6 separate regions of the Homo sapiens genome follow, and all the other regions are linked to region 1. Evidence: fine-mapped expression QTL. A gene starts in region 1. Each other region holds a variant in brackets. All regions are shown on one strand. Distances are between the middles of the regions. Region 1 holds the start of MCF2L (MCF.2 cell line derived transforming sequence like). Region 2 holds the start of LOC124903214 (a long non-coding RNA gene). Region 3 overlaps MCF2L (MCF.2 cell line derived transforming sequence like). Region 4 overlaps MCF2L (MCF.2 cell line derived transforming sequence like). Region 5 overlaps MCF2L (MCF.2 cell line derived transforming sequence like). Region 6 overlaps LOC124903214 (a long non-coding RNA gene).

The links.
Region 2: its variant is fine-mapped to the expression of MCF2L in whole blood (TOPMed, PIP above 0.99). The same link has a PIP of 0.9 or more in blood mononuclear cells.
Region 3: its variant is fine-mapped to the expression of MCF2L in whole blood (INTERVAL, PIP 0.95).
Region 4: its variant is fine-mapped to the expression of MCF2L in whole blood (TOPMed, PIP 0.92).
Region 5: its variant is fine-mapped to the expression of MCF2L in spinal cord (GTEx, PIP above 0.99). The same link has a PIP of 0.9 or more in hippocampus and putamen.
Region 6: its variant is fine-mapped to the expression of MCF2L in whole blood (TOPMed, PIP above 0.99).

What each region holds. Positions count from the first base shown.
Region 1 is chr13:112,967,429-112,971,514 of GRCh38, forward strand. It overlaps MCF2L (MCF.2 cell line derived transforming sequence like), which reads left to right and starts at 1,786. Exons shown (of 30, transcript NM_001112732.3): 1 at 1,786-2,030. The coding sequence starts at 1,952. It overlaps MCF2L-AS1 (MCF2L antisense RNA 1), which reads right to left and starts at 1,210. Exons shown (of 1, transcript NR_034002.1): 1 at 56-1,210. RefSeq lists an enhancer at 941-1,460 and a silencer at 1,662-1,721.
Region 2 is chr13:112,929,249-112,933,334 of GRCh38, forward strand. It overlaps LOC124903214 (a long non-coding RNA gene), which reads right to left and starts at 2,104. Exons shown (of 2, transcript XR_007063877.1): 1 at 1,812-2,104; 2 at 1-700. It also overlaps a transcript of MCF2L not described here. RefSeq lists an enhancer at 93-935. The variant C/T (reference allele first, on the strand shown) is at 2,098.
Region 3 is chr13:113,072,613-113,076,698 of GRCh38, forward strand. It overlaps MCF2L (MCF.2 cell line derived transforming sequence like), which reads left to right. Exons shown (of 30, transcript NM_001112732.3): 10 at 1,832-1,951; 11 at 2,386-2,577; 12 at 3,354-3,545. Among named protein-coding and RNA genes, the nearest start is that of F7, 31 kb to the right of the region's middle. The variant G/T (reference allele first, on the strand shown) is at 2,165.
Region 4 is chr13:113,085,089-113,089,174 of GRCh38, forward strand. It overlaps MCF2L (MCF.2 cell line derived transforming sequence like), which reads left to right. Exons shown (of 30, transcript NM_001112732.3): 20 at 1-90; 21 at 1,036-1,161; 22 at 2,147-2,368; 23 at 2,619-2,711; 24 at 3,239-3,317; 25 at 3,474-3,540. Among named protein-coding and RNA genes, the nearest start is that of F7, 19 kb to the right of the region's middle. The variant C/T (reference allele first, on the strand shown) is at 1,876.
Region 5 is chr13:113,059,572-113,063,657 of GRCh38, forward strand. MCF2L (MCF.2 cell line derived transforming sequence like) reads left to right here. Exons shown (of 30, transcript NM_001112732.3): 5 at 1,022-1,141. Among named protein-coding and RNA genes, the nearest start is that of F7, 44 kb to the right of the region's middle. The variant A/C (reference allele first, on the strand shown) is at 1,902.
Region 6 is chr13:112,921,710-112,925,795 of GRCh38, forward strand. LOC124903214 (a long non-coding RNA gene) reads right to left here. Exons shown (of 2, transcript XR_007063877.1): 2 at 1,149-4,086. It also overlaps a transcript of MCF2L not described here. Among named protein-coding and RNA genes, the nearest start is that of MCF2L-AS1, 45 kb to the right of the region's middle. The variant T/C (reference allele first, on the strand shown) is at 2,398.

The DNA of each region.
Region 1 (4,086 bases):
AACTGCTGATACTCAATACGTTTCTCATGTTAAACAAAAACAAAAACAAAGCAGCCATTTCTTACAGATTTATTCAATACTTTCTATCTGGTTATTATGCCTCTTATTCTGTAATTATTTTTTATTATGAATTATTTATTTCCAGATCTGTCTGGCCTATAAGGCCTGTAGGCACTATAAGGGGGAGTACTGCGTCACCTTCATCTTTTTATCCCTTTGGCCTTGCTCCGTGCCTGAAAGCTCACCACACTGGAACGTCCAGGTGCACATGTGCCACTGGACACCGGGATGTTGCCGGATGCTCTTTTGGACGCTGGAATGCTGGTGCATTGTTGCCGGATGCTGGAATGGTGCACGCACGCTCTGTTGGACGCTGGAATGCTGGTGCATTGTTGCCGGATGCTGGAATGGTGCACGCATGCCCTGTTGGACTCTGGAATGCTGGTGCATTGTTGCCAAATGCCGGAATGGTACACGGATGCTCTGTTGGACGCTGGAATGCTGGTGCATTGTTGCCGGATGCTGGAATGGTGCACGCATGCTCTGTTGGACGCTGGAATGCTGGCGCATGTGCACATGTTATTGGCATGAGCTGTAGTTCAAACCTCAGCCATATGATGCTTGAATTCCCAAACCATTCGTGGAAATGTGTACTTCTTCCTGCTGGAATTCTCTCTCTCTCTCTCTCTCTTTTAACTGATTGGGGAGTGAGGTGGGGGGGGGGGTCTTGCTACATTGCCCAGGCTCAAACTTCTGGGCTCAAATGATCCTCCTGCTTCTGCCTCAGCTTCTGCCTCGGCCTCCGGAGTAGCTGGGACTACAGGCCTGAAATACTGTTTCTTTAAGGAAGGGCATGTTACCTATAATACCAAACCACAAAAGGATAGCTGCGGTTTTGGGCGAGGAGAGCTCAGAGAGTTTCTTGCATATGGCCCTGTGATGGCGGCCATGGCCCTGCATAGACACGAGCTGGAATCTGCAGGTGGCAGCCAGGACGCTGCGTGTGTCGAGTGCACAGTGTGGCTTGGTGCCAACCATGGCGAGGGTGGAGAGCCCCGTGCCTGCAGCGCGCGCTTCCCTCACTGGGTCCTGCGTCCTTGGGCAGGCGATGCCCCTGCGGGGAGGGGCTGGTCCATCCCCGGCCAGCCACGGACCCACGCATGGACCCAGCGACCCACGGACCTGCTTACCTGGGCGCGGCGCGGGTGGCATGCGGCCACACGGAAGGGGCGCGCTGGGCTGCTGCGGCCTCTGCAGCTTCTACACCTGCCACGGGGCGGCCGGAGGTAAAGGGAGGCGGCGGCCAGGCGCGGCCCCGCGGAGGCAGCTGCACTCGCTCGGTCCACTCGCGGCTTCGCGGCTGCCCGCAAACCAGGAGGGCGTGGAGACCCGGAACCGGGGGGAAGGGCGGGGGCACTTGTGCGGCACCCGCGGGGCTCCCAGGGGACCTCGGCGGTGACACGAATTTCTAGGTGACCTTGGCGGTGACACGAATTTCTAGGTGACCTGTGTGATACACTAGGTGACCTAGTGACACAGGTGACACTTCCAGGTGACCGCGGCGGTGACCCGCGGGGCTCCCAGGTGACCTCGTTGGTGAGCCCCGGGGCTCCCCGACGACCGCGGCGGTGACACGCGGGGCTCCCAGGTGACCCCGGCGGTGCACTCACAGGACTCCCAGGTGACCCGCGGTGGTGACACACCGGGGCGGGCGCGCGCCGCTTCCGCTTCCGCCGAGCCGCCCCCCGCCCCCCGCGGCGCAGCGCGCGCCCCCCTCCCGGTGGCGCGGAACCAATCCTGGGCAGGGAGGCGGCGGCTGGAGGCTGAAAGCGCTGCCGTGGCCCCCTCCCCGCCTCCGCCGCGCCCCCTCCGCACTCGCACGGCCCCACCCGCAGGCGCCCCCCGTGCGGAGGAAGCGGATCTGCCAGGATCATTTTTGTTGTGTCGGAGGATGAGGTTTTGGCTGAGGACTGAAGAGATGGCCTTGGAAGAAATGGTGCAGAGATTAAATGCGGTTTCCAAGCACACGGGTAGGAGGAGCTGCTGGCCGTCAGTGATCTGTGCTTAAGCTTGACATCATGGGCTGAAATGTGGGGAAATGCGTCTGATTTTTGTAAGCCGCCCTCGTGTTCCTTTCTAGCCGTGGTAGCTGTGACATGGGGGGCACTGGTTGGCAGCTGGTGTGTTTTCAGAGGCTGTCGGCGATCGTATGCTGCCCGGGATAGTCAAAATGACTGCACGTTGGTGACACTGGCTCTCTCAGGGTTGCTGGGTCTGCATGCGGAGCCATTTGTGTGTCTGAAGTCTGCCCATCAACCTGCCTGTCCGCAGCCCTCGCAATGGAGAATGCATTGCGAATGGAGAATGATCTGAGCCAAGGGCTTTCAGAGCTTGGGGTTTCAGAGCCAGGGGTAGGGATGGTGAAGCTACCTGGAAGCTCGTTTTGAGGATGAAAAAACCTGGACTAATCAGGTGGTTCTTTTCTTCATTAAATGCAATTTAAACCTAAGACAGATGTTTGAGACGGTATGGGTAAAGAGTGGACTGGACGTTCATTTTCAGTATTAATCGAAATATTACTTCAAATAAGCTTTGAAGAGTAGTTCAGATCGATTCTTTTAGGTGTAAGCAGAGACTGGGCTGACAGCTTGCATCTGGCCGTGGCTTTCAGGCGGTCGCATCTGAGTTCTCAGGCTGTGTTATGCAGAAGGGAGAGGCATCCTTAACTCGTTTTCCTTGAAATGAAGAGGAAATAATGATATATCATTAAAAGTAAGTTGCCAAGTGTTTTGCCTGATGTTGCCATATGTTATGTCATATATGCCATTACTAGTTGTCTAACTAGTACTTGCCTGGGAGATTAAAATGTCAGTTGCTTGGTTTGGGTGTGGTTCTCTTTCTCTGCCCACCCCGATGGATTCTGAGAGTGAACCAGTGATTAAATCAGCATAAGCACCATCGTATGGGATGGTCTAATCAAGATGTTTTTAATGGGGGCTTTTATGATCAAAGCTGCTGGGTTTATTGTATGTGGGTCGAAAGAAAACAAAACCATTTTCATGCCGTCTGCTCCCTGATTCTTAGAGAATCAGCTCTTTTTCTGAAGCTTGAGTGGAGCTTTTCCGTGCAGGGTTTGCAGGGTTTGAGTATGGTGAAGGGCTGCGTGGATGCCAGGTTCACAGGGAGGCTTCCGATCGGCTGTGGGGGTGGAGGAGAAAGCCCCCCTTGCTCTGCATGCCTCTGCGTGCCGTTCGGTGTCAGAGTCACAGAGTGGGAACCGCTCCAGAGGCTGATGTCATTCCCCAGGTTTTTAGGGATTGGGGTTTCTTCATGAGCTCCAAGAGACATGTGCGCATTTTTAATTGGAAAAAGGCTATCTCAGAAGAGCAGCAGTGACACTGTCTGCTCACTGAATGTCGTGCGAGCCGGGCGCTCGGTGTGGGCCATCGTCTCATCTGGAACAGGCAGTGAGATGTGCGTCCTCCCACACATCTGCATTACCGATAATTGCATGCTTCACCAGGACTTTCAAGTCCAGCTTACCAGATATCCTCGGTTATGAGCACCCTGTAGCGTTTAGTTAGGGGAGGTGACCCTGCATCATACTCCACTTACCACCCATTAACACTGGCCTCTTCCTTCAGCACAAACCCATTTTCTGCTCACGCTGTGTGAGGTACTGCTCAGCGGAGGCAAGTTATTAGGTTGAAGGCTGTAAAACCATCATGAGGGGGTTTATGATGCAGTATTGACATGATGCTACCACAGAGTGTACGGGTATGTGGTGCACATTCTCTGGTAGGGGTGAAGGTCAAGGTAAACCTGATCCCCACCTCGGGTTTAAATTCCAAGCACTTCCTCAGGAGAGTTCCCCACCTGCAGCCAAACACTCTTCAGCGGGAGGTCATGGAGCTGCTTCTCCTTCTGGGGTCATGCTAGGATCCGTGCCAGGTAAAAGCTGATGGCAACAGGACACTGATGTGGCGGCTGGTGTAGGTCCTCAGGGCAGTGGCGGGGCTAGGTCACAGCTGAGGGATTGCGTACAGCGGCTGGCCTTAGAGCAGCTGCCTCATTCAGCTGTGCAGA
Region 2 (4,086 bases), 38 kb before region 1:
CTCTTCAAAGGGGTGTTTGCTCTTTATTCCTGGATTCGTGGTTGTCCTTAATGTGAATCTCTTTCCCCGATTCCTGCGCGGCTGCAGCAACGCTGCGGTTTGTTCAACTTCGTGGCTGCAGGACGCTGTCAGCAGTTTGGTCTTCTTGGCACACTGCCACTTATAGGCCAGGAAATGGGATAAAGCCATTTATCTTTTATCGGGATGGGAGCCTGCCCTTTCCGCCTTCTCTTAAATGCATTAGTAAAACCACTTGGGAAAAACAACAGGGAGTTCATTTGAAACTCATTTCCAGGTTAACTCTTCACACTCCTGATGAAATCTGTGAAGTGCATGGAGTCTGCCCCTGCCCTCAGGCCCCTCCACAGCAGGTGTCAGAATCACCAGGTGGGTGGAGCTCCAGACCCTGGCCCCTTACCGCTGGCCACAGCATCCTGAGCACCCTGCCCAGAACCTCCGGCCTCGGGTTCCTCTTCTGCAGAAAGCAGATGATGACGCCTGCATCACGGACTGCATGGTCGGGATGGCGGAGTGACCACAGGCTCGGGAAGTGACTTGGGACGGTCACTGTGGCTGAGTTAGCAGTTGGCTGCTTGTTGTTTTCTTCCGTTTGTGGCGATCCTTTCTTTCCCAGATGACCCCTGTTTTGTGACGTTCATTCTTCCCATTTGTCATTGAAAGCCGTTGCTGGGATAACGCTCTAATAAAAACCAGTGCCAGAAAAGATGCTCAGAATCATTTGTCATTAGAGAGTTACATATGCCCCTACACACCTGTTAGAGCATCGGCTTCCACAAAACCTCACAACGCCTGGTACTGGCGAGGACACAGGGCATGGGGAGCTCTCGTTCACTGGGATGGAGCGGAGGGAGTGGGGAAGACAGTATGGCCGTTACTTCCAAAGCTAAATGCACTCTTACCATACAGTCCAGTGATCTTGCTTCTTGGTGTTTACCCAAACTAGTTGAAAACATGTCCATACAAAAACCTGCACATAAGTGTTTATAGGAGCTTTATTCACAAGCACTAAAACCTGGAAGCAACCAGTATGTCATTCAGTAGATGAATAAACAAACTGTGGTCCATGCAGATGATGGAATATTACTCAGCAGTGAAAAGAAATGGGCTAAGTCATGAAGAGACATAGAGGAAACTTAGATGCTTATTGCCAAGAGGAAGAAGCCAATCTGAAAAGGCCACAGACTGTATGATTCCAACTCTGTGATATTCTGGAAAAGGCAAAACTATGGAGACAGTGACAAAATCCATAGTTGCTGAGAGGAGAGAGGGGTGAGTAGGTGGAGCTCTGGGGATTTTAGGGCAGTGAAACTACTGTATATGATATCATGTATTTGTCAAAACCCATACAGATGCACAGCACAGAGTAAATCTTAATACCTGCAAATTTAAAAATTATTTAGGACATGCCTATAATCCCAGCACTGTGGGAGGCTGAGGAGGGCAGATCACTTGAGGTCAGGAGTTCGAGACCAGCCTGGCCAACATGGTGAAGCCCCATCTCTACTAAAAATACAAAAATTAGCCAGGCATGGTGGAGCGTGCCTGTAATCCCAGCTACTCAGGAGGCTGAGGCAAGAGAATTGCTTGAACCCAGGAGGCAGGGGTTGGAGTGAGCCAAGATCACGCCATTGCACTCCAGCCTGGGTGACAGAGTGAGACTCCGTCTCAAATAAATAAATAAATAGTAAAAATCATTTCGGAGGTCAGAGGGGTCCCCGGAAGGAATGCAGGAACCAGGAGACACAAGCCAGCTTTACTGGAGCGTGTTAGAGCCAGGACGCGCCTCTCACCTGAGCGGTTCAGCGTGCAGATGACAAACAGAGGTTCAGAGTCCTGGCTGTGTCTTCTGGGGCCTCCCAGTGGGGAGGGAGTGGCACTCTGTGTTTCCACATCCCTTTCTCCTGCCTGCACAGGAGGCAGAGAGCCAACCTGTGCTGAAGATGCATGAAACCGCCTCACGGAAGAAGAGGAACAGGGTGCTGACCTGCGTGACTCTGGGCAGGAGTGGGGTCTGTGAGACTAGAGGCAAAAGAAGCCACACAAACGCCCCAGGCTCCACTTAATTACGTCGTTTCC[C/T]GTAGATACAGGTCGGCAGTGCTGACGCTGCTCTGCCGGAAGCTGAAACTGAGCGATTAGGTGAGCAGCTGTCTGCGGATGGGAGCTGCTTTCTCACTGTTCCAGGAGAGGCTACACCCGTGTTGTAACAGAGCAGGTGTGCGGCGTCAGTGTGAACTGACGCTTAGCTTAGTGCAGATACAGGTGGCGACATACAGAAATACTGTGCACATCCCATAGCACACGCCTGCCTCTCCTCACCTTGACAGCTGAGAGGGCCTGGAAGCAGCAGCAGCCAGTGTCCACGAGCGTCCCCAGTGGCCAGATCTTGGTTTCTAATTCCATTCTTCAGTAAAAGCAACTGGGCTTCTTAGAGAAACCGCAGATTCCAGGATGGAGGCAGGAAGTATGCAAGATGAGACTGGATCATCTTACAGTGACAGAAAGGGAGGAACAAAACAAACAAAACAAAACCCAAACCCACGTGGATGGGGGCAGGCCAGAGGGACGCAGGAACCACCGAACACTCCCCATGACCAAAGCAGAACAATTTGAGCAGCAAAGTCAAGTCGCGTTGTATTATAACCCCAAGAACAAGATGAAGAAGCGTGGGTCCACACTGACGTAAATGATTGAATAGATATTAATACATGACTGGAGACAAGAGATAAGTCTCCCTTGCAGAAGAATTCCCCATCCTTCATGTAGATGAGTTGTTGTCACGAGGGGAGCTCAGAACCCTACTTCCTGAGTGTGGGATGTGCGCAGCTATGTGGTTCCGAAGAGTTCAAGACGAAAAGAGGGAGAAAGAGTAACTTCCCAGCAGAGGACCTGACGACCTGAGCCAGGCAATCGAGGTCAGCACCGATGGCGACCAGGCGTGTAGACTCGTGCCCTGGGTAAGGCGTGACCGGGATGGCACTTTACCTCTGTAGTCCTCCTCCCCAAGCACATCCTCCCCACTCCAATCATGAGAAGGACGTCAGAGTTCCAACAGAGGCTTCCAGTATACCTGACCAGTAGCCCTCAAAACTGTCAAAGTCATCAAAAATAAGGGAGCTCTGAGAAGCTGTCACAGCCAAGAGGAGCTGAAGGAGACAGGATGACTGAATCCTAGAACAGAAGAATATATTAGGCAAAAACTGTGGAAACCTGAATAAACTGTGCATAGTTAATAATAATGTACCAATATTGGCTCATTAATTGCAACAAAGGCACCATAAGCTTAAGATATGAATATTGGAGGACACTGGGGGAGGGGTGTGTGGGAGCCCTGTTCTATGTCAGTTTTGCTGTAAATCTAAAGCTGTTCTAAACAAAGCTAAACAAAGTTACTTAAAAAAGAAGCATCTCAGTACCGTCAGTGGGCCTGTGTGGCCCCTCATAGGTATCTGTATTTTAGCAAAAGAGAAATAAACGACTTTGGCTGGGTGCGGTGGCTGGCACCTGTAATCCCAGCACTTTGGGAGGTCAACGCGGGTGGATCATCTGAGGTCAGGAGTTGAAGACCAGCCTGGCCAACATGGTGAAACCCCGTCTCTACTAAAAATACAAAAATTAGCCTGGTGTGGTGACACACACCTGTAATCCCAGCTACCCAGGAGGCTGAGACAGGAGAATTGCTTGAACGCAGGAGGTGGAGATTTTAGTGAGGCAAGATTGTGCCACTGCCCCCCAACCTGGGTGACAGAGCAAGGCTCCATCTCAAAATAAATAAATAAATAAATAAATAAACATGAAGGAAGGAAGGAGAAAAGAAAGAAACGAACTTAACCACAAGCTGAGGAGCAGGAGTGCTGGGCCGACAGCCTTCTGGGAGACCCACAGCCTCCTGGAGGTCCGGGCGCTGGCCCCGCAGGGGTTGGCTCCAGTTGTGTGTCTGATCCAATGGGACTTTCAGAGACGCCCAGGCTGCCGTCTCCTTGGGCTCTGTGTGCAGAGAGGTCTGTGTGGTTGGAATTTCGGAGGTTCCTCTGCCAGTTGTTCCTCCCACCAGGAGCTCCGTGGAAG
Region 3 (4,086 bases), 110 kb after region 1:
TGTGCTTTTCAAGGCAATGTGTAGGGTTGTTTATAGTATTCTTTCTTATCTTTTTGACGTCTGCAGGGTCTGTAGTGATATTCCCTGTTTCATTTCTGATATTTGTAATTTGCATCTTTTCCTTTTTTCTTTGTCAATCTAGATTGAGATGTATCACTCCTCATCTTTCCAAAGAACTCGTTCTTTGTTTCATTAGTTTTCTCTGTTGTTTTCTGTTCTCAGTTTCATTGATTTCTGATCCTACCTTTATTATTTCTACAAATTGCTTTGGTGGGAACTTACATTCTTTATTTGAGACTGTTCCTCTTTTCTAACATACATATTTAATAAGAACACTATAAATTTCCCTCTCATCACTGATTTAGCTGTGTTCCACAAATTTTGATGTATTGTATTTTCTTTTTCATTTACTCCAGCTTTTTTTTTTTTTTTTTCCAATTTCCCTTGGAACTTCCTCTTTGACCCATCCATTCTTTAAATGTATGTTGTTTGGCTTCCAGTGTTCAGAGATTTTCCCGTTGTCTTTCCATTCTTGATTTCAAGTTTGATTCATTGTAATCAGAGAACATACTCTGTATGATTTCTGTTCTTATAAATGTGTTGAGATTTGTTTTGCAGCCCAAGAATATGGTCTTTCTTGGTATATGTTCCTCACTTGAAAAGAATGTGTATTCTGCTATTGTTAGGTGAAGTTTTATACATATCAGTTAGATCCTGTTGGTTGATGGTATTGAGTTCTTCTATATCCGAGCTAGTTTCTGAGAGGTGGTGCATTATCCATAACTCAGTGGCTGTGCGTAACATGGAGAGAAGTCTCACTCATCAGCTGTGCCAGATGCAGGGGGTTCAAGGATGGACAAGAATCCTGCCTTCCTGGCCTTCAACCCCAGGCCATCTGAACTACAACCCCCTTGGCACTGGGATGTCTGCGTACACACCCATTCTCAGGATCATTTCCAATAACAAAAATTAAAAGCTTTTGTATTTAAAGGAATAAGTGGTCATATGTTTTAAAAATCAGGCCAGGCATGGTGGCTCACACCTGTAATCCCAGCACTGTGGGAGGCCAAGACGGGTGGATCACCTGTGGTCAGGAGTTCAAGACCAACCTGGCCAACATGGTGAAACCCCATCTCTACTAAAAATGCAAAAATTAGCTGGGCGTGATGGCTGGTGCCTGTAATCCCAGCTACTTGGGAGGCTGAGGCAGGAAAATCACTTGAACCAGAGAGGCAGAGGTTACAGTGAGCCAAGATCACGCCACTGCACTCCAGCCTGGGCAACAAGAACAAAACTCCGTCTCAAAAAAAAAAAATTAAAAATTAAAATAAAAATCATTTCTATGACACCCATTGTCTTCCTGCCAACAGCAGAAATCGTAGACATTAGAAGTTAGTAGCAAGCTAGAAGGGACTGAGTTACATAACTCTCCACACCTAGGATCCAGTAGGAATGCTGACAATTCCAGTGTCCATATTGCTGCTGGCTTTCGGCTCCCAGGGCCTTTGTCCTTGCGTGATCTCATCTTCTCCTCATGCTGTTTTCAGGCGTGTGGTTGATAAACGGAGGCACACACAAGCCACAGAGAAACAATTGTTCTGCCAGTGAGGTCACTGGTGGGTAGCGTCGACCCAGAGGCCCCACGGTCCCCGCTTGATTGGTGACCACTCGGGGCCGACTTTGCACCTGTCTGACTGTGGTCCCTGCTTGATTGATGACCACTTGGCCCGACTTTGAATTCTGTCATTTCCCTGATCTGGAGCACTGGAGTGGGTTCTCTCTGTTCAGGTGAGGGAGACACCCCCCTGAGATGGGCCCTCCTCTGTTCCAGGTCAAAGCCATCTTGGACGCAGCGTCCCAGAAGATAGCAACCTTCACAGACATCGGCAACAGCCTGGCGCATGTGGAGCACCTGCTGAGGGACCTGGCCAGCTTCGAGGAGAAATCAGGCGTAAGGCGGGGTCCCGGCGGGGGCGGCGGGAGAGTGTGGGCAGCATCATCAAGTGCTGCTCAGGAAGGCGCAGGAATGGGCCTCCCGCCTACGGAGAACGGACCCCACAGCCCCCCGGGGATGTCCATGGGGTGGGGGGTGCTGCTGCCTGTACCCCTCCCCTCCCACACCCCACCCACAGCACATGGCCCTGCCCGGCCTCCTCTGGGTCAG[G/T]TCCCTGCAGACGGTCAATGCCTTTGCTGGGACCACCACAGCCCCCAGAAGCACTTGCCACAGAACAGCTTCGGGGATTAAGCAGCATCTCAGGCATCCGCAGCAGTAAACAAAGAAATCAAGACACACGTGTGCCCCGGGACACACATCCCGTACAGCAAGGCACTGTGTGCCTCGAACAGAAAGAGGCCTGAGCTGGTCCTCTGGGTGGCCGTCCACAGGTGGCCGTGGAGAGGGCCCGGGCCCTGTCTCTGGACGGCGAGCAGCTCATTGGGAACAAGCACTACGCGGTAGACTCCATCCGCCCAAAGTGCCAGGAGCTCCGGCACCTCTGTGACCAGTTCTCTGCGGAGATCGCAAGGAGGAGGGGGCTGCTCAGCAAGTCCCTGGAGCTGCACCGCCGCCTGGAGACGGTAGGCCGAGCCGGACCCCACCCCACTCCCCCCCAGCTGCGGAACCAGCCTCTTCCTCCCACATCCACCACCGGCTGACCCTTGTCGTGGGGAGGGCAGCTCTTTGGCTGGAAAATGTCCTTGCACCCTTCGTTTCTGGTCTTGTTGGCCTAGAGGGTCTTTTTCTAGAATTCATTTGCCACAGTTTTATTTCTTTTTTTTTTTTTTTCTCACTGCAACCTCTGGTTCCTGGGCTCAAGGGATCCTCCCACCTCAGCCCCCAAGTAGCTGGGACTGTAGGTGCATGCCACCGTACCCAGCTAATTCTTGTATTTTGTGTGTGTGTGATAGAGATGGGGTCTCACTATGTTGCCCAGGCTGGTCTCGAACTCCTGGGCTCAGGTGATCCTCTCACCTTCACCTCTCAGAGTGCTGGGATTACAGGCGTGAGCCACCCTGCCCAGCCAATAATGATTTCTTTAAAAGATCCAGAAGCTTAAGGCCTGGTTGATCCTACTGCACTTACCCTGCCTCTCCAGGCCCCGCCCTGGGTAATTCACTGGTGTTGTCCAGCACTGTGTCCCCTTGGGATTGGCCTTGTCCAGCACTGTGTCCCCTTGGGATTGGCCTTGTCCAGCACTGTGTCCCCTTGGGGTGCTTTGGACAGGGTGGCGGGAGCACGAGGAGTCGGTGGCCCGGGATCTGTCGGGAGGACACCCCGGCAGTGTGTGCCTGGACAGGGTGACGCTCTCACCCTCTCACGGCGTCCTGCCCTCGGCAATGCTCTGTGTTTCCAGTCCATGAAGTGGTGTGATGAAGGGATTTACCTGCTGGCCTCACAACCTGTGGACAAGTGCCAGTCCCAGGACGGCGCGGAGGCTGCCCTCCAGGAAATCGAGAAGTTTTTGGAGACCGGTGCGGAAAATAAGATCCAGGAGCTCAACGCGATTTACAAGGAATACGAATCCATCCTCAACCAAGATCTCATGGTAACGCTGACTCGGGCTCTCCATTTGCAGCTTGCTGTCCCGAGCAGTGAGGCATTCCTCTGTGGGAAGTTTGAAAGAATCATTTAATGAATTATTTGTATTTATTTATTATTATTTTTTTTTTGAGATGGAATCTCGCTCTTGTCGCCCAGGCTGGAGTGCAGTGGCACGATCTTAGCTCACTGCAATCTCCGCCTCCCAGGTTCAAGCAATTCTCCTGCCTCAGCCTCCTGAGTAGCTGGGATTACAGGCGCCCACCACCAAGCCTGGCTAATTTTTGTATTTTTATTAGAGACAGGTTTTCACCATGTTGGCCAGGCTGGTCTCGAACTCCTGACCTCAGGTGATCCACCCAGCTCAACCTCCCAAAGTGCTGGAATGACAGGTGTGAGCCACCGCACCTGGCCCATTTAATGAATTACTACCAAATAATAGGCATATGAGAGAAACACACAGTTGGGAGGTCAAGCTGAATTTTCCTTTCAACACAGAAATTATTTCCACGCCAACCCTGCGAGGTGGCCATCCCGCCTCCGCTGGC
Region 4 (4,086 bases), 120 kb after region 1:
TGCCAGAGAAAGCTGGACCACAAGCTGAGCCTGGACTCCTACCTGCTGAAGCCAGTGCAGAGGATCACCAAGTACCAGCTGCTGCTCAAGGTGGGCTCCGCGGTGACCGTGGCCCGGCCTCCCCAGCACCTGCTGGCCAGGTGTCTGTGCCGCCCTGGGGCCCCGTCCCCATCGCGCCCTGCCCCTCCCAGGCCAAGGGCACCTCTTCCGAGCCTGTGCTGAGGCTGGGATGCCTTTCGAGGTCCTACTGTGCGCCACTGTTAGGGGTCTGAGGACGCAGGTGAGCAGACGAGTCCCCGTCCCCATGGGTTGGCACACAGCCCAGCCCACATGGGATTCTGTGTGATGTGCTGACCCGTCCCTCCAGGGTGGAGCCGTGCCCGGATTATCTGGCACACAGCAGGGACGTGGGGCGGCCTAGACTGGGGATTCCAGCTATGAGTTTGCCATGTGGGTCCCTCTAACCTTCAGGCAGGAAACTGCAACTCCATGCCTTTGGCCAGGGTTAGGGTGGCGAGAGGAAACTCCCCAGGGAGCAGGTGCGAGGGGTTTGCACCTGGCATCAGGGTGGCAGGAGGGAGCTCCCCGGGGAGCAGGTGCGAGGGGTTTGCACCTGGCATCAGGGTGGCAGGAGGGAGCTCCCCGGGGAGCAGGTGCGAGGGGTTTGCACCTGGCATCAGGGTGGCAGGAGGGAGCTCCCCGGGGAGCAGGTGCGAGGGGTTTGCACCTGGCATCCGGGTGGCAGGAGGGAGCTCCCCGGGGAGCAGGTGCGAGGGGTTTGCACCTGGCATCCGGGTGGCAGGAGGGAGCTCCCCGGGGAGCAGGTGCCAAGGGTCTGCACCTGGCAGGGGTGCTGCCCCATCTGCAGCACCACTCAGTCTGTCCCAGCTGCAGGAGGGCAGGCAGGGCAGCTCCCCACAGACCAGGGGAGGGTGAGCAGCATCCCTACCTCGTGCCAAGCTCCTGAGGGGTCTGTTCCAGGGGAGCCAGGGCTCTCCGTGTCCCGACGCGGTTGCCTCACCCCATGCCCCTCAGGAAATGCTGAAATACAGCAGGAACTGCGAGGGGGCTGAGGACCTGCAGGAGGCGCTGAGCTCCATCCTGGGCATCCTGAAGGCCGTGAACGACTCCATGCACCTCATCGCTATCACCGGCTATGACGTAAGGCGCCCAGATGCCCGGTCTTCCCCGCCGCCTCCGTGGAATACACCAGCCCAGCAACTTGGCGGCCTCCCTGCACACGCCCCTCGCTTTGGTGTGAATGTGCAGGTTCTGGGCAGGAGGTCTGGGGTGGTCCCTAGATAAGCCCACTCCCAGGCCCCACAGCCGGGTCCACAGACCCCACAGCCGGGTCCACAGACCCCACTGGGCTCTCTGGGACGTGGAGAAAATCAGGAAGCGTCCCTTGCTTGGAGGGCACGCATCTCCAGCAGGAACGCAGCTCAGACCTCCTCACTCCTTGTCTTCTCCTGGGGAGGAGGCGTGGCTCGGAGCAGACGTGACTTCTGTTTTCTGGGCTGCGATTTGCAGGCTGGTGACTTAGAGCAAGTGGCCCCAGAAGGCAGATGTCACTTTCCCCGTAGAGCCCCACATCAGGTCACAGCTTATTCATCTTTTGTCCGTCTTTATGTCCACCCAGCACTCATTCTCAGGTGTTTTTTTTTTAACTAATAGAGTTGATTTATTGCAGCAATTTTTGGTTTGTGAGATAATTGAGTATAAATCAGAGGCCCTGAGGCTTCCCCTAGTGTTGACATTTAGCATGGGTGCCACACCTGCCACACATGGTGAACTAGCGCTGATGCTGATTAGTGACTGAGGGCCGTTCCCCTTGGAGCTCACTCTGGGTGCTGTGCATTCTGCGGTTTGGACAGG[C/T]GTGTAACATCCTACACCCAGCGCTAGAGCATCACACAGAGCAGCTTCACTGTCCTAGAAGCCCATGTGCCCCGCCAGTCCATCCCTCCTCCCCCAGCCCCTGGCACCTGCTGACCTGTCAGTCTCCACGAGCTTGCCTTTCCTGGGACGCCCTGCAGCTGGAATCCCACCGTGGGTGGGCTTTGCAGAGTGGCTGCTTTCACTCAGCGATGCGCGTCCATGGCCCCAGGCCCATCCCGTCCTGAACACAGCCCTGCTGTCGCACATTTAGGGGAATCTCGGCGACCTGGGCAAGCTGCTGATGCAGGGCTCGTTCAGCGTCTGGACCGACCACAAGAGGGGCCACACCAAGGTGAAGGAGCTGGCCAGGTTCAAGCCCATGCAGCGGCACCTGTTCCTGCACGAGAAGGCAGTGCTCTTCTGCAAGAAGAGGGAGGAGAATGGGGAGGGGTATGAGAAAGCTCCCTCCTACAGCTACAAGCAGTCCTTAAACGTAAGTGAGGCCGGGTCTGCAGCAGCACGCTCCTGGCCACAGACCCCGACGGGGGAAGTCTGTAACTCGGTCTGAGGTGGCCACGCTGACACCCAGCTCTCAGCCTTAGGTGTAGGGGTGGGGTATTCTGCCATTCTTAGCCCTCACCCCCAAAGTATTTCCATCATTTCGTGCCTGCACCAACACCTTTTAAAAACAAGGCAGTGGGTTCACTGTGCACGCGAACCCCATCTCCACTCTCTGCTCGCAGATGGCTGCCGTTGGCATTACGGAGAACGTGAAGGGAGATGCTAAGAAGTTCGAGATCTGGTACAACGCGCGCGAGGAGGTCTACATCGTCCAGGTGGGCCACCCACCCTACCCCTGGCCTCTTACACATTGCCACGAATGGTTTCTCATGGGAACCAGTGCAAGGATCTGCCATGAAGTTGCATCGAGCCCAGGAGCAGCCGCTGTACACTTCAGGATGCTGCCCTGGGCTGTCTTCACCCTGAGCTGGACCCAGAATGAAATGTGGGGAAAAGTACACATCAGACGGGGTGCTGCGAGGAAACGGGCTCTCCCTCCCCAGGGGAGCTCATGTGTCCCTGGACGGTGCAAGTGTGCATCTGGCACGCAGGGCCGATTCTCACGGTGGGGAGGGTGCCGTGCCCTGGGTGCCAGGCACAGTTCTTCAGTCAGTCCCGTGCATGGGGCACAGAGGGTCCCGCAATGCGGGGCCACCCACAGTGCTTTCCTCCTCTCCCCTCACACGCAGCCACCTGACCTTTGACTCCTAAGATTATCTTTGGATGTTCCGAGAGTGAAACCAAAGCGTGTTTCCTCGGGGGCCTGAGTACTCACCTCCTGGCGTTTCTTTTGGGGAAACAGGCGCCAACTCCTGAGATTAAAGCCGCGTGGGTGAATGAAATTCGGAAAGTGCTGACCAGCCAGCTGCAGGCTTGTAGAGGTGAGGCTGTCTTCAAGCGATCGTTTCCCGTAGCTTCCGCTCCAGGTGCATTTTTACCTATGTTCAGAGCAACCGCACAGTCCCCCCATGCGCAAGGTGCCTCGGCGTTGAAGTAAAGACGCTCGTTCACGTGGTTTGTCTGCTCCCTCCTCGCAGAAGCCAGCCAGCACCGGGCGCTGGAGCAGTCACAGAGCCTGCCCCTGCCGGCCCCGACCAGCACCAGGTGAGAATGGACACGCTGCCGCAGGCCTGCGTTTCTGGAGCAGTCCCGAGCAGGCCATTTGCACGCCAGGGTCCTCGGCCTCTGTCAGTGGGACCCTGTGGTTATTGGGGTTTTCCTTGAGGCCCCTGGTGTTTATGTGCTGACGGGTCCGTCCCAGAGGGTGTACTTCACAGATGTGTGCCTCCGACAATGCCCAGTCCCTCTCCAGCTCTTCCCGGGGTGGGCTGTTCCACAGCACGGCAGTGCGCACATGGCCTGTCCAGATCACAGCCACGCCCCAGCACTCCTCAGACAGTCGGGGCTCAGCTGGGAGCCGGCACTGATGGCCCAGCACACACGTGGGCACGTTTCAGACTCCGACCCTGACCGTGGCTTCGTCGTGTCTCTTCTGCCCTTGTTTTTTCTTTATTTTGTTCATCCACTTATTTTTTTCACTTTATCCTGTTTCTTATATAAGCTACCTTTAATCATTCATGGAACAGGATATGGCCTAAATAAATAATCCGTAGAACAGTAGTTTTAAAAAAGAAACACTCCCCCGCCCCC
Region 5 (4,086 bases), 92 kb after region 1:
CTTGGTGTCGAGAGCAACCATCACTGCACGTCTGTCATCGCGGCTTTTGAGCGCTTCCTTGGTGCAGGTGTCCACTGAACGCCACGCACGCCTTGGTCCATTTCATCTTCGAAAGGGTGTCATGAGTAGGCACTGCCGGTCTCCCCACTTTCCCAATGGAGAAGCTGAGACACAGAGAAGGGGAGTGACCTACCCAAGTTCCCACGCCTTGTAAGAGGCAGAGCCAGTTTCCAAATAAATTCATGTAACTGTGTCCAAGGCCGTGTGTGCACACCAGGGCACAAGATTATTTTTATTTTTGTAGGTAACACACACATGTGTCTATGTTGCTTTTATAAAATTTGACAAGTGTCTTGGTTTCCTGGGGCCATGGTAACAAAGTAACTACAGACTGACCACTGGGCGCACAGAAGCTGTTCCCTCCCAGCCCCGGAGGCGGAGTCTGAACTCAGGTGTGGCCGGAGGGGGCTCCTTCCAAGGCTATGGGGAGCGTCTCTCTGCTCGAGGCCTCTCCTCAGCTTCTGGTCTGGCTGCCTCCTGGGTCTCCCTGGGTGTGGAAGCACCGCCCCGGCCTCCACCAGCAAATTCTCTGGGAGCTCTCCACGCGGTGCTGGGATCAGGGCCTGCCCTAATGACCTCACTTTAGCTTGGTTACCTCTGTAAAGACCGCGTCACCAGCCAAGGTCACGTTCGGAGGCACTGGGAGTTAGGCTTCGACATCATAATTTGGGGGGACACAGCTCAGCCCCTAACAACTGTCGTAAGCTTTGGACTTTTACATTTGTAAGCAGCATAACGTTCTGCCAAGACATGAGGCTTTTCCTCTTTTCTTTTAGAAAAGAGATGCCTTTCACAGAGGCCAGCATCTCTACCATGTTTATCTCAGCATAAACCTGCTGCGTTGAGGATGCCTGGCCGCTAGCTGCGCGCCCCCGGTCAGCCCAGCGTGCAGGCACCGCACTAGGGGGGCTGCTGTCTGCAGAGCACGCTGCAGGCCCTTGTCTCTCGCCCTCTCTCACAGGCATCTTTCCCGGCAAACCTGCAGCTCGTCCTCGTGCTTCGCCCGACGGGTTTTTTCCAAAGGACTCTCTCCGACATCGCTTTCAAATTCAATAGAGATGACTTTAAGATGAAGGTGCCGGTAAGTGCGCCCCGCCTCCATCCTGCGGTAGCAGAACGGAACTCATTGCCGTCCTGGCCCATCTGTGATCATCGAAATCCTCGAGGAGCTGACTTCAGGGCCACACGGTCAACAAAACCCCGCAGGACCTGGCGGGAAGTTGCACCTCCTCAATGCTGCCAGAAGCAGTACAATCCTTTCTTCCCCCACCCCCGCCCCCAGCCCCCACCCCGCCAGAGGTGCACAGAGCATCAACCTCAGAGAGGCCACCGTGTGGGCATCCCATCAGGACGCGGGTCACGCGACATTCATACCCCCAGGAGAACTACAGAACTTGAGACCCTAAGGGCTGAGAGTCCGCCTGGCCCACCCGCGAGGAACTCAGCCCAGGCCCTGCCTGCACCCCAGGGATGAGAGAAGGGCTGGGGAGGGGGCTGTAAGCATCTCTGGACCTGGGAGGGAGCACCCACTGCTGACAGGGATGGGCCGGACCTGTCCTGGAGCAGCCAACAGGGTGACCCCTGCCCCATCGCCACCACACTATCCCGGCACAGGGCAGCATCTCCCAACACTGCCCACTGAGAAAGCACCTTCAGTCCTGATCTGCTGTCCTTTAAAGAACAAAGGCTTCACAAAGTCCCTTAGAGCCTGTGGAGCCCGGTCACCAGCCCGAGCTGTGTAGCTCCCCCGGAGAGCCCTGGTCAGCTGCCTTGGCGAGCTCACATCTTCTCTGCCACAAAGAGAACAGAGACATATGGGCCAGCACCAGGCACCGCAGAGC[A/C]CCCCATGGCACCAGCCAGATGCTACTGGAAACCAGGCAATCTGGGGTGCAGGTCGCTCACTGTGAAGCTACTCCCTGTGCGCTGGGAATCAGGTGGCACCAGCCCTCCCTCCCCACCCTCGTTGCGCTACAGCCTCAATGCCAAAGGTGCAAGAGCCCTTCTCTGACAGGGAAGAAAACGGCCTGGGGCCTTTCCCCATGTACTGCCCCCTTCCCCTCCCCTCCCCTCCCCCTTGCCCTCCCCTCCCCCTTGCCCTCCCCTCCCTCTTCCCTTTCCCCTCCCTTCCCTCTCCCCCTTCCCCTCCCCTCCCTCTCCCCCTTCCCCTCCCTTCCCTCTCCCCCTTCCCCTCTTTTCTCTCCCCTCCCCCTCCCTCCTCCTCCCCTCCCCTCTTTTCCCCCTCCCCCTCCTCCTCCCCTTCCTCCTCCTCTCCCCCTACCCAAGACAGCCCTGGGGGTCACAAGGCCCCATCCACTCTGCCCACCCCCACGCAGTCCACTCTGGGTGTCACCCGTGACCCTGGTGCCTGGCCTGGGGCAGTAACTGCAGGTGCAGGGTGTTCTGCATGGCACCCATGGGGCTCTGTGCCATCGTGCTTTGGTGGCCCCAGAACCACCAGCTTCCAAGCCATTGGGAAACTCTGTGCATGTACCGTTTTTTGTAGCCTTGGAGAAGCCTTAGTGTCTGAACAGTCCATTCCCTAGAGACGACCAGCGACAAAACCGTGCAGAGCAGGGACTCGTGGGCAGTGGGAGGCTCATGTCCTGACACCAGGATGAGCTAGGCATTGCGTGTGCAGCTCAGAGCTCCTCTGACAGCTCCTCTCGTGATGGCGTGTGCAGCTCAGCACCCTGCAGACAGCACCTCTCGTGGTGGCTTGTGCAGCTCAGCGCCCCGCAGACAGCTACTCTCTTGGTGGCTTGTGTGTGTTATGGCCCTTATGATGGAGATAACTCCGTGCGCCCTCCTTCCCTGCTATTTGGCAGGCACTGCACACTAGCCATAGGCTTTGTGACCACAGACGTGTCACGGGGAGCAAGACCGACCTCACGGGTCATCCATGCCACAGGCTCCCCTGCACAACGGCTCCACAGCAAGCCGTCAAAATGGGTTTCACAGAAATCACCGGCATCTTCAAACTCACAGCCCCACTTAGATAATTCTTGAAATTAGAGTGGATGATGTGAAGGATGCAGTTGTTGACACGTGTGTGTCCGTGTTTCAGTGCCGTGTGCTGGACTCAGCCATAGAAAGGAGACATGAGGGAGAACAGTGGCCCCGGCACCTCTGCTGCCGTGACTGACTGTCCAAACCCATGGATGGAGTGACCTCAAAAAGGGCAAGAGAAATGCAGAAAAATGAAGACAAGGCGTGTGTAGAGGAGCTTATGCGGCCGTCGCAACCACAGGTTTTCCACATAACCATAACCGTGTGGGAACTGCCAGCCACTCTCCCCGTCCGGCCTCAGTGGTGGTGTGTTGATTTCAACTGGTGTCTACAATGACCGCGGGGTATTTTCGGCAGGAACAGGGACAAAAATGATCATCTCTCCCATCAGAGCACTGTTTGATGATGTTGCTGGAGGAGGTGTAAACGCCTGTTGCATGTCCTTGGCCATCACAGGCCGCACTCGTGTGGAGTTTTGTGCACCTCCAACAGCACCATTTGCTGCTCACCGTGGCATGATGAGCTCAGGCACAACGTGCCCATTTACGAAGGAGGCAGCTGAGACACAGAGTGGGCGGCTGGCCTGCGGGCGAGTGGGACCCACATCTGGGTCCACACAGGTCCGAAGCCAGGCGCCCCTGTCCACACAGCCACCCACAATGTCCAGGCGCCCCCATCCGCTCAGCTGCCTACAGTGTCCAGACACCCCTGCCTGCACAGCCGCCCACAGCGTTCAGGCGTCCCTGTCCACACAGCTGCCCACGGTGTCCAGACACCCCTGTCCACACAGCCGCCCACAGCGTTCAGGCGTCCCTGTCCACACAGCCGCCCACAGCGTTCAGGCGTCCCTGTCCACACAGCTGCCCACAGCGTTCAGGCGCCCCTGTCCACACAGCCACCCACGGTGTCCAGGGTTTGGATAAAATCTAGGCTTGGCTTTGCAAGCAGTCAGACGGGACCACAAAATGGGTCTCCTGAGGTTTAGCTCAGGGGTTATTTGACACCACATCATGTTTTATT
Region 6 (4,086 bases), 46 kb before region 1:
CCTAGACGTTAAGAATAAAATCAGAAGGCTGGAAAAGAAACAAAACAAAAATGCCGCTAAGCAGCCTTTGAGTTGGAGGCCATGCCAGCTAAAGTGGAGAGTTCCTAAAAGTACAACACACAACTTAGCAAATCTATGAAATATGGCAGGAGAGAGTGTCAGGAGGATTATATCAATACTTATATCAGTAAAAATGTAAAAAGGATGCAAATACCTACATAAAAATGGTAGAAAAAGAACAATAAAACAAGCCACAAAAAGTAGATAAAAGCAGAAAATAAGGATAGAAATAATAAAAATAATAAATCTAAAAGCTGTTTTGAAAGAGACACATGAGGCCCCAGCTCACAGTGAATGGAGGAAAAGTCCAGAGGCCCAGAGCTGGAAACGTGTGGGCCGGGAGCAGCCCCTGCCAGAGGGCACTTTATATAGTAGTCGACTTTGTACAACCAAAACTCAATAAATTTGAAAGCGTAGAAGAAACAGATAGTTTTTCAGAAAATTACAGCTTTCCAAATTTGATACTGATAGAGCCAAAGTCTAGAATAAATGGGGAAAGGAAAGAGCTCTTCCCCGAAAGAGCAAGCCAGATTATTCCACACAGAACGTCTTCCAGATCTCTAAAGATCATACAATTTCAGTGCAACTTAAACTGCTTTGTGAGGTTTTCTTTTTCTGTCCTTTAATGTCACTTTATGTAGTGATTTCAACATTGATCCCCAAACCTGGCAACATAGTACTTTGGCAGAAATAAACTATGGACTGATCTCAATCTCATTTCTCAGCATTGAAGTAAAAATCTGAAAGCATTCACAACACATAAAAAAAAAAAAAACCCATCAGCCAGGCGCAGTGGCTCACGCCTGTAATCCTAGCACTTTGGGAGACCGAGGCGGGCAGATTGCCTGAGCTCAGGAGTTCAAGACCAGCCTGGGCTAAACGGTGAAACCCTGTCTCTACTAAAACACAGAAGAAATTAGCCAGGCGTGGTGGCACGTGCCTGTAGTCCCAACTACTTGGGAGGCTGAGGCAGGAGAATTGCTTGAACCTGGGAGGCGGAGGTTGCAGTGAGCTGAGATCGTGCCACTGCACTCCAGCGTGGGCGACAGAGCAAGACTCCATCTCTACAAACAAACAAACAAAAACCATCGTGACAATTAGGGGTTTATTCAAGGAATGCAAAGATGGTTAACATTAGAATCCATTAATGCATAGAGAGAAATCATGTAAGTTTCATAGATGTGGAAAAAGCACTCGACAAATGCGGTGCCTCTTTATGTTAAAAGAAATCCAGTCATAGGAATTGGTGGATACTTTTTTCTGTAACCTTTATTTTAACAATTTCAGATGTACAGAACAATGGCAAGGGTAGCACAAAGAATTCTCGTATATAAGACACTCAGATTCCTCAATATTATGTTTCACCATGTTTGCTTTCTTCTCTCATGTGTGCATATTACACAAATATACATTATTATTTTCTAGGTGTCAGAGAGTACGTGACAGACAGGCTACCCTTTTATCTCCATGAACTTCAGTGTTTGCTTCTTTTTTTTTTTTTTTTTTTTTTTTGAGACGGAGTCTTGCTCTGTCACCCAGGCTGGAGTACAGTGGCAAGATCTCGGCTCACTGCAAGCTCCGCCTCCTGGGTTGACGCCATTCTCCTGCCTCAGCCTCCCGAGTAGCTGGGACTACAGGCGCCCGCCACCACGCCTGGCTAATTTTTTTGTATTTTTAATAGAGATGGGGTTTCACCGTGTTAGCCAGGATGGTCTCAATCTCCTGACCTGGTGATCTACCTGCCTCGGCCTCCCAAAGTGCTGGGATTACAGGTGTGAGCCACCGCACCTGGCCAGTGTTTACTTCTTAACAAATATATTTGTTTGCTTATAAAACTAGAGTATAATTCTCCAAATTGTTTGTTTTTTGCCATTACTTTGAATGGCAAAACCCACAATTACCTTTGCAGCAACCTAATAGGTAATTAACTTCAACACACTCTTCTCTAATCACTGCTGTTTTGTATGTAGATCCAGAGTCTATGAGTTGTCCCCCTAAATGTCCTTTAAAGCAAAAGAAAATTCAGGAGCATGAGAATTTGGAGCAGGAGCTGCATTCAGTTGTCCTGTGTTTTATCTTTCTTTACTCTGGAGCAGCCCCTTAGTATTTCTTTGTTTCATGACACCGCCACTTTGGAGAGGGCAGGCCAGTTATGTTGTAGAACATTCCTAAATTGGGGTTTGTCTAATGTTTATTGCTAAATCCAGGAGATGCATTTTTGGCCCAGAAATGCTGATGTGTCCTTCCCAGAGCGTCCTATCAGGAAGCATACGAGACCGGTTTATCCCGTTACTGGTGGTGTTAAATTTGACGACATGGTTAAGAAGGGAGAGCTTC[T/C]GTAACATGACCTAAAAATACGCACACACATTATCCCCAAAGCCAGCATCCTACTCAGCAGGAAATGCTGGAAGCTCTCCCACTGAAGCCAAGAACAGAGTGAAGCTCCCCACAACCCCCCCACGATGTGTCGTCGTTAGAGTGCCCCCACACGCAGCTGGGCTACAGAGACAGCACAGACACGGGAGTTTACCTTTTCCTTTTCATTATCTCTATTTTCAATTTCTCCGTATGCAGTTGTTACATTTCTGGAAAACCCAAAATAATCATTGGATAAAATGCTACAAAAAAATAAGGGAATTAATAAATTTTATACCCTGCTGCTTAACATGTAGAAATCATAGGTAGGAACAAAAACCAAGGAGAAGATCTAATGGGAGAGATAATATTTATAGTAGCAAAAATAAAGTACCTCTGTTTTTAGCATTCTCGTTTAATAAATGCTGATACGAGGAAAACTATAAAATACTCCTGAGACACAGAAGACTTGAACACATGGAAAAGGTATATGATAGCTTTAGATAGGGAAGCTCCACATGACAAAGACATCAGTTCTCCCTGAATTAATGCATACACTTAAGGAGCCCCAATAAACACATCATCTTTTTCTTTCTCAGGGTGCTAGACAAGTTGATCATAAAACCCACTTAGAGAAACAAACATGAACACCTGAGAAAACCCTGGAGAGTATCAGAGGGGAATGGGCTGCCCAGACGTTAAAATTTTCTATACAGCCTCTTTAATGAAAATGGTGTGGATCCTGGCATAAGAACAAGGACAGGTGAATGGAACAGAATAAAAATCCAGAAGCAAATCAGGCTGCCTGGGGAAGATCCATGTAGCTCAAGGCAGCATGTAAATTTCGTGCTGGAAAAGATGACCTTGGTTATCAATGGTGTTGGGATAACTGGATAGCCTCATGGAAAAAGATGAAAGTCAGGTCTTCTTCACACCTTTCACCTGGATAAGTACCAGATGGACCTGTGATTTAAATGTAAAAAGTAATCCAATAGGCATATCCAATAAGCATATGAGAATGTGGTTGGCATCATGATTCAAGGGCAAAATGTACATTAAAACCACAATAGGGTACCATTCTTCGTCCACCAGAGTGGCTAAAATTAAAGACTGGCTATTCCAAGTGGTTGGTGCAGAAGTGGGATACCAGTGCTCACATTTCCTGGTGGGAAGGCATATTGCTATGACCACTTTGGAAAACATGGACAGGGTCTAAAGCTAAGCATGTGCCTGCCCTCCGATTCCACCCTAACTGTGCACCCAAAAGGAAGGAGTACTTCTGTACGTGTACGTATGTGGACGTTCACAGCAGCTTGATGCCCAGGAGCCCCACGCTGGACACCCTAACCTCTAGGAGCCTTAAGAGAAAACGGGTTAAATAAAGGGCATCATATTCATACCCCACAAAGCTACACGAGAAGAAATAAACCACTACAACATGCCTGCAGTTCACACATCAATCTCAAGATCAGGCAAAACTAGCTTCTCTGGTAGTGGTCATAGTATTAATGGCTGCTACCTCTTGGGAAATATTGGTTGGGAAGGGGCCAGGAAGCCTCCTGGGGTACTAGAAATGTTCTTTAGCTGACCTGGGCAGTGGTCACTGGGTACATACATACGTTTGATGTGATAAACTGCTCCGTGCATGTTCCTATATCTAGTAAAGGAATC